2 separate regions of the Homo sapiens genome follow, and region 1 is linked to region 2. The links come from fine-mapping of genetic effects on gene expression. A gene starts in region 2. The other region holds a variant in brackets. All regions are shown on one strand. Distances are between the middles of the regions.

Region 1 (4,394 bases), 24 kb before region 2:
AGGCAAGTCTCTTCTTGACCACTACTGTCCCTGCCCCGCACTCCCTCTTTCTGCTGTGCCATATCAGGCATGACCTCTCACATTTAGGTTTTTAGGCATGTGACTGGACCCCGTGTCCTCTAAATTCCAGGACATACATATTAATCTCTCTGAGTGGTTCCCTTGAAACCTCTCTCAACTGGAGAAAGAGAGGCACAGAACCCACAACTACATGAATACTCTTTTAACTCTTCAGTCCCTTGTCTTTAAGGACATAACTACTCATACTGGTTTAATCTAATTTAGTCTCTTAGCAGGTCCTGCCTAGGTGGCCCAGATTCTTGCTTTAAGGCATGTGGTTCCTGCCAACTATCAAGAGTGTCTTTAGGCCTTTACCAAATCTCTGTGACAACAGGAAGAAGGACTTGCCCATCCTCTTGCTATATCCAGCCTCACACCTGGCATGTGAAGGTGTGGGGGCTTGGCGCCAGTATCCCCTCCTTTTCTTTACACTTGGGACCTTGGGTGAGTCATTTAAGATCTGTAAGTCTAGGTTTAGAACTAAATAATAATATATTTCTTGACAGCTTTATAGCTTTGTTGTGAAGAATGAAAAACAAGATGGATGAGCCAGTGCTTTATACACAGAAAGTCTATAGGGAAAAATGTAAATTGCTATTAAGATAGAGAATAGCAGTTCCATCAGAAATAGTGATTCCTCAGTCTATTTTCTTTTCTATTGAATACACATTCCAAATCTGGCAGGTGGAGGACAGGGTTTCAATGGCCATCAACAAAAAGACATACAGACAGTAAATACTACTATTTATTTACACATTCTCATTAAACCTGAGGCTTGACCACTGTAACGCATATAATATTGGGGAGGGAATGTTTGTGGTTCCTATACCTCATATCCCGCTTCATCTCACTTCCCCCACGATATGAGGTATAGGAATACCCAGAAACCAAGAGCATTTCTATATAGGAATCAAAAATGAATGTTTTTAAGGACCAAAAGTTCTTTAAAAACATCTTTAATATAGAAATCAAAAATAAATGTTTTTTAAGGACCAAAGTCTCTAAGTGCATGTCAAGCAATGCCTGAATTGCCCAGCTTACTCTTCTCCTGACCACAGCCCCATGCTGAAGAAAGCAAGGTGAAGCTGTGTTTGTGGGGGAATGGAGCAAGTGGATGTTGACTGAGTTGGGCATCACACTGCAGAGCCCCATCCACATGCTGGCTGATGACCCATGAGGCAGCCTGGTGCAAAGGGAAGAGGGTTGGGTGGAAACTGAGGAAATCATCAGATTCCCCTGAGATCTGGGCTATGGAGCAAGAGGTAAACCTGAGCAGAGAGAAATAGAGATGCCAAAGAGACTCTGTGTGTGCATGTGACACAGAGAGGTTGGGGTGGCGATGGGGATGCCTTGCTTTAGAGCTGTGTTAGTTCCTGCAAGTTTGCTCATTCTATATCCAGGCAGCTGTCACTTTATGATAAATCCCCATTCTCCAGGCGATCCTTATTACTCTCTGTCCACTGCAACTATAAGAGGAAAGGAGGAAATGGCACTGCCATGCTAAGCTAATTTGTCCTCATTACCTTGCAGAATGGAGAATCTTCTAGAACAATTTCCAATGTGGAATTATGCGTCTTTTTACACCTGCCCCATTTCAAATGCTGGTCTAAAACTAGCCCAGCCTTGGGGGGCGGGGGCAGAATGTGACACAAACCCAATCTTTTCATCACCTGTACGACCACCCTCATCAAATCACCAGCTCTTCATGCCCCGAGGCCATCCTCTAAGGCTAAATTGTCTTCAGCTAGCCACAAAGCTCGTGACATTGTAGGACCCAATTTGGGGGTCTCCTAGTTGTTGAGCTCTTGCCTTATGCTGACTGGACAGACACCTAGGTAGCCAAGCAGTAACGCACTCACCTCAATTAAAACAGGAATTACTTATGCCATAAATATTTTTCTTGTAACTGGATTGTACAAACATTATGACACTGTTAATAGCATGTTTTAATTACTCACAACTCCACCAGCTTAAGATAAGCACAAAACACTTGAAACCAAAGACCAGGGTATAAACTCTCCCTCTTCCACGCCCTAGCTGTGTGACTTTGAGTAAGTTGCTTAGTCTTTAAGAGCCTCTTTCCCCTCCTCTGTAATTAGTGATGGTTAATACCTACTTTGCAGGGTTATTGTGGAGGTGAAAGGAGACATCTAGCAGGATATTGCTGCTGTAGTGACAACAGCATCATAGCAACAGGAACAATTTCCTAGGCACTTTTATGTGCCAGGCACCATGCCACATACTCAACTTGCTTCATCTCATGTAATTCGCCCAATCACTTTGTGAGGTAGGCACATTTTACAGGTAATGTTGCTTCAGCACACAGTGACTAAGTCATCTAAGTAACTAACACAGTTAACGAGGGATGGTGCTGCACAAAACACTCCTCCCTTTACCTTTTTATGTTTCACTATGACAAAGATTTCAGACTT[C/A]AAACGAAGTAATAGCAACTACTTACTGGGGATTCATCGGTTCCCAGTCGCCGATATGTTGAATTACACAGTTTTTTAACTTTCTCAGGACCCTCTATATCATAACCTTTGGGAAAAGCTTCTCTGTCACGGTGCCTTAAGAAAAAATTAGGAGTCCGTTAAGAGATGTAGTTTATTTATTCTGTATTGCATTCAGATTTTTAAAAATTATCCAATGAAAATTTTCTATATTTGTAGTATTAAGTATAAATTTATTAGATTTGTGACATATAAAGTATTTTCCATCTCTTTTCAAGTAATGCTGAGGCTAATTCCTAAAAGCAACCTAGCATAAGTGATAAAACTAATAATATCACCCAAACAATACTTATCAAACACAGTAATTACTCAGTGATTCCAATGAACTGAATCCTATTTAATAATGTAGATTAGTTTACCAACAGTAAGTTCTAAAATAAGACATGGTAATATCTTGGAAAGGCAACTTTCCACTTTAGAAATTCTTTCTACCATGAATTTTAATTACAATTTTTTTCAAAACAAGACAGCAAAGTATTTGCCCATATTGATTTATAACCTGTGCTTCTGCTTCTAAAGAGGCAATAAAGGAAGCTGATAAACATGAGGTAGAAGAAAACAGTTCTTAAAAATGTAGATGGAAGAAGGAAAAAATATACCAAACATCTTGATTAAAAGAGTGATTAAGAATAATAAGAGGCAGGGAACAGTAACACACGCCTGTAATCTCAGCACTTTGGGAGGCAGGCAGATCCCTTGAGCCTAGAAGCTTCAAGACCAGCCTGGGAAACATGGCAAGACCCCATCTCTACAAAAAATACAAAAATCAGTTGGGCTTGGTGGCATGTGCCTGTAGTCCCAGCTACACGGGAGGCTGGGCTAGGAGGATCACCTCAGGGAGGTCAAGGCTGCAGTCAGCCATGATTGTGCCACTGAACTCCAGCCTGGGCAACAGAATAAGACCCTGTCTCAAAAAAGAAGAAGAAAGAAGGAGGAGGAGGAGGAAGAAGAAGAAGAAGAAGAAGAAGAAGAAGAAGAAGAAGAAGAAGAAGAAGAAGAAGAAGAAGAAGAAGAAGGAGGAGGAGGAGGAGGAGGAGGAGGAGGAGGAGGAGGAGGAGGAGGAGGAGGGGGGGAGGAGGAGGAAGAGGAGGAGGAGGAGAAGTAGGAGGGGAGGGGAGGGGGAGGGGAGGGGGAAGAAGGAAGAAGAGGATTTGGGGGTAGAGAAGGAAAAAGTAGGAGAAGTGGCTGGCAACTGAAGTAGCTATTTTTAATAGAACTTTCTTGAGTGAAATATAGGATGCTAAGACTAAGCAACCCTCAGAAGTTACTTTGCTTTAAGGGATACAGGGCTAGAATTGTTTAGGGGACACTCAAGTACCCGAGAATTCAATCATCCAGCCATTTGTTTATTCCACAAATGTTTTAAAATTCCTACTACATGCCAGGGACTTTGGTAGGTGTGGGGGATGCAGTGGGAAGTGAGTCTAATGGAGTCCCTGCCTTCAGTTGCTTGCAGTCTAGATAGAGAGACACAAAAATAAGAAAAATCTACAACATGGTAAGTGTGGGTAAAAATCTAGGTAAGAAGAATTGCTTCCCTTAACCTAGGTTGGGCACCGAATCCAAAGGGCATCCTCTTTCCTTCCCCACCCCCACTGGACTAGGGCTCAGCCCCTGCACTACATTCCCATTAACACTCCTGCCTCCCCACCTCTGAGCATGACAGCAGAGCTCTGCAGTAGAACCCAGCAGCAAGGGAGCCCAAGGTGGGGCGGCAAGCAAAACACACCTGAGCCCTCTTCTCTCCTCACATCTGAGCATCAAAGTGCAGAACACTAAATGCTTTTTGGTAACCTACCAGCATTTTATGAGATCCTAACAGGA
Region 2 (4,394 bases):
TCTGTGGTTTTGCTATTGATGTCTGTAACTTTCACAATGCAATTTTCAAAGTAATAGTGGTGCAGCAGAGAGCAGAAGCACTGTCCCTTTGCAAAAAGTCTTTCTCTTTAACAATAACTTCTAGTGGTGATTTATGGTATGACTCAAATCTCTGTGGGGTAACAGAGTCACAGAAGAGCTAAGTGTTTTGCTTGAGAGCTATGAGGTAAGCCCTATATGAGGCTAAAAGAGGATGTTCTGTTTCCCAGTGTAGTTTTGGATTCCAAATCTGTATAACTTCTCATACTGAGTTCAAAGGAGGAAGAGAGACAGTTTCAGGGTTGAGAAGTAAAAGCAGAAAGGTAAACTTGTTGGAAAGCAGGGAATAGGCTTTAGAAAGTTTGCAAGACAGAAACTGCAGGGGTCGCATATATTACATGAATGAATGGGATGAAGTCGGGCTTAGCCTTAGGGCTAGAGTCAAAATCACTCATTTCTTTCAAAAGCAAAAACATAAAGTAGACAAGATTTGTGACTTCTTTTCATTTCTTTTTTTTCTTCACGCCCCTCCCAAATATTCCAACCACTCCAAATGTAATTACTATCAACAGCAGAGCCAGGAAAGTTAATTCAAGGGAAAGAATTTGAAAAGTCCTAAAAGTTTCCACTTTTCTTCCAGTTATACATCACAGTGTTGCTATTGGTCACTGTGATATTTAATAAGAGAAAGTGAATTTCCAGGTCAAGTTCTAAAGCACAAGAAGTAAACCAAATGCTTCTTGGGGCCAAGCAAGAACTTACACGAGGGAAGTTCCTAAAGACAGAACAACACCCATCTTAAGGTGTAGCCAGTGCTCAGCTCTGGTACATTCATAGTTCCCCAGAGAAATAAAATCCTCTCTGGCCAAGACTTTCAAATTTTCAAAGATACAACCCTGGATTTACTGTGAATCTCCTAGTTTTAAATGTGGCCAACTAATTAAAATGAAAAAAAAAAAAAGTAAACAGAGCTCATGCCAAACAATGTCTGTTGGCCTTAACCAGTGGGAGATGCCAGTTTGCAGTCTCTGGCCAGAAAAGTTCTTGTATGTAGCCTAGAAAATATGAGGGGCCTCGTTCAAATCACTCCATGTACACCCTACCCCCAGGAAGTGGCAGCCCTGGAGGCTGGTCCTCTAAATAGGCATCTCCCTCCTGCTGTGCCCCTGGCCTCTAATTCCTTTTATGAGTAAGTGCCTGTGTCAGAAATGTGATTTCCAGGCCTCTGACAGCACCCCCTTTTCACCCCCTATTTATACACACCCGCTCTGTGTGAATGAGCTAAAACCTCAGGTGGCGGGGATTTGGCTGCTGCGTGGCCCAGTGTGTGGCTGGGAGCTGCCCCTGAAAGGCTCTCCTATTTCCTCCTCTCTGCTCCAACCCTCTCTCCCACTCTCTCTATTTCTCCTTTGAAAATATTTCTTTCCCTTTTCTTTCTTTTCTCTCTTTTCCTCCTTCCCATTCCTCTCTCGTCTCATCTTTTTCTCACCTTTCTTCTCATTTCCTTCTTTCTCTACATTTCTCCCCCACTTTTCTCATTCTTTTTTCCGTTTCCTCTGTCGTCTCCACTCCTGTCCCCTCTCTCTGACTCTCCTTTCCTTTCCTGTTCCATCCTTTCCCCTCTCTTTCCTCCCCGCAGCACCCGGGAACTTGCGAGGGGACTTCGCTCACCAGGAATACACCAACACCGGCTTCGAGTATTTCTTGTGATGGGAGCGGAGGGTCAGGGAGCCCTTGCGCTCCACCAAGTCCGGTGGTCCGATCTCCAACCAGTGTTGCTTCCTGTCGCACCAGTCCTGGCAGGATCTGTCAAGGCTATCCATGGGAGCCCTCGAGGTACAGACCTCTGAGGAGTTCCCTATGCACCTGTCCTGCCCGGCAGGAACGTAAGTACCAAGATTCGGCGTCTCTTATCTCCTAAGCAACCTGGGGCGGGGCCAGTGGAGGGGCGGATCCCTCCAACCTGACGGCCAAACGTTTCCTAGACGTTGTCGTTACTGATAAGAAACTACATTTCCCAGAATGCAGTGAGGGTAGCGACCGGGCTACACAGGTGATGAAGGGGGGAACTGCATCCTGGGATCCGCAGTTTCGCCTGTCCACCCGCCAAATCCTAAGAGTGGCTGAGCGCAGTTATTGGGGAGTGGTAGGTCAGTTAAGGACCAAGGGAAGAGCAAATTCCCTGAACCCCGAGTGGGTCTGTTCGGGCTGTCTTTAGAGAAGTTCTTTTGTGTGTGTGTGTGTGTGTGTGTGTGTGTGTGTGTGTGTGTCCGAGTCTCACTCTGTCGCCCAGGCAGGCTGGAGTGCAGTGGCACGATCTTGGCTCACTGCAACCTCCGCCTCCCAGGTTCAAGCGATTCTCCTGCCTCAGCCTCCCAAGTAGCTGGGATTACAGGGTCTCGCCACCACACCCGGCTAATTTTTTGTATTTTTAGTAGAAACAGGGTTTCACCATGTTGGCCATGCTGGTCTCGAACTCCAGAACTCAAGTGATCCGTCCGCCTCGGTCTTCCAAACTGCTGGGATTACAGGCGTGAGCCACCGCGCCCAGCCTTTGGGGAAGTTCTTTTTACCGTCCATCATCCATTGCCACCACACCTTCTGCTTACGAGTTATTTATAATAAGTTTAACTAAAAGAGAACGAGAGAACATCCCCTGAAACCCAAAGTTTGTCATTCTATACAGCTTTCCTGCCTGCAAAAGAGGAGGAGCAGACTCATCCAGCAAATCACCTAAAAAGTTTGAAGATCAAAAAGCCTAGCTCCAGTTTCAGATCCTTCCCCTACCTTTCTGAACACTAGTTTCTTCCTCTGAAAAACGAAAGAGGGAACGGGACCGTAGAGTGGAGTGGGCACAAGAATCGCAAGTCCCTTCTGGCTATGACGCTGCAAGACTCTAGGTACAGTTTAGGACTCCGGGCATTCAGATCCCCGGGACTTGTCAAGTTCTCCTCATTGACATTTTTGATATTTCGTGACAACACAAATTCATCACATTTTTGTGCTGTGTGTTATATGTGGGAAGGAGATTTTAAAAAGATTGCCTTTTGAAGTTATTGGATAGCTGTGTTACAGAAGAAAACATTGCCTTCAAGAAGTTATTGGATAGATATGTTACAGAAGAAAAGACGTTTGTTTCATTTTTGACTTTGCAGGAAAAGAATATGTAACACATCAGAATTCTTCTCTCCTCCCTGGCCTTAGTCGAGTACCTGAGGGGCATTAAAGCACTTCCTCCTTGCAATCACTTACCCAGCATAGTCCTTAATACAGATATCTTCATTGTTGAATGAATGAATGAATGTTCATTATGTTTGATTACCTTAGGTTTACTTTCCAAAAGTGTCTTACTTGAGGAAGACCACATCTACACAAAAAAATCAAACTTTAAAACAGAGTAAGAGACCATTCACACTACAAATAGATTCTCGGTTTATAAAAGATGTGTTATAGTGCTCCCATAAATAGTGAGGCACTCTTCTGTATCAGATGGCACAAATTTGATTACATATAACTACTAAGTGCTTTTCCGTGGTCTGTGGTTCATAGTGTGGGTGCCTGTGGTATGCTAAGGTCTCTATTTTACTGACAGCCACAGTTAAAATATATTTCTTAAAACCAAATAAACAGTCCACCATCACCAGCCAAATGCTAGGAGAGTGCTGACTGCTATTTTAGCTGCTTTCTTCTAGGCAGAATGAAAAGAAAAACATAAGTTAACTTTAAAAGGGGAAATATGATCCATGTCAAGCTCAATTCTGTCCAATCAAAGCACAGAATATTGCTGTTGTTCCAAAAATATTATCATCATTGCTGTCATCTGTTCATGTGTTCATTTTACTTACGTTTAGAGTGGCGGTAACATAATATATGTGAAACCAATATGTCAGATCTCTGCAGACAATTTCTCTCAAAGATGGAAGCTGCCCAAGGCCAAGCTCTTTCCACAGTGCATAAGTACCACAGAGATTTAAAAGCTTTTCAGCACACCAAGGAGCAATAAGTTAAGAAAACATGCAAAACAAACATAGCTGGTTATTTTAGAGTTCCTTAAGCCAAGCCAACCACCTATTAGAGTTTGTGAATATGCTTTTTGTTATACTCACTTTCCTGTTTGTATCAAATTTATAAACTTCATTGTCTTCTGTGTCTACTAAATACTTTTCAACATCCTTGTCCTAGGATTTAGGATACTAATTCTGTGATATCCTCGAGTTTATGTGCATTCCATTCTCTTTGTATACACCAATACATACTGTAGAATTTTGGTTTCTTGATTCTTTATCAATAAAATAGGAATAGAACAGCACTTATTGCAGAGGGTTTTTTTGTTTTTTTTTTGTTTTGTTTTTTTTTTTTTTTGAGATGGAGTCTCA

Evidence for each region. PIP is the estimated chance that this variant, and not a neighbour inherited with it, causes the effect.
Region 1: its variant is the best candidate, but not a certain one, in a credible set for the expression of CFAP95 in testis (GTEx, PIP 0.50).

Annotation. Positions count from the first base shown.
Region 1 is chr9:69,842,750-69,847,143 of GRCh38, reverse strand. It overlaps CFAP95 (cilia and flagella associated protein 95), which reads right to left. Exons shown (of 6, transcript NM_001010940.3): 2 at 2,519-2,627. Among named protein-coding and RNA genes, the nearest start is that of CFAP95, 24 kb to the right of the region's middle. The variant C/A (reference allele first, on the strand shown) is at 2,493.
Region 2 is chr9:69,818,327-69,822,720 of GRCh38, reverse strand. CFAP95 (cilia and flagella associated protein 95) reads right to left here and starts at 1,904. Exons shown (of 6, transcript NM_001010940.3): 1 at 1,690-1,904. The coding sequence starts at 1,841. CFAP95-DT (CFAP95 divergent transcript) reads left to right here and starts at 1,982. Exons shown (of 2, transcript NR_038833.1): 1 at 1,982-2,071; 2 at 2,454-3,316. RefSeq lists a silencer at 1,929-1,988.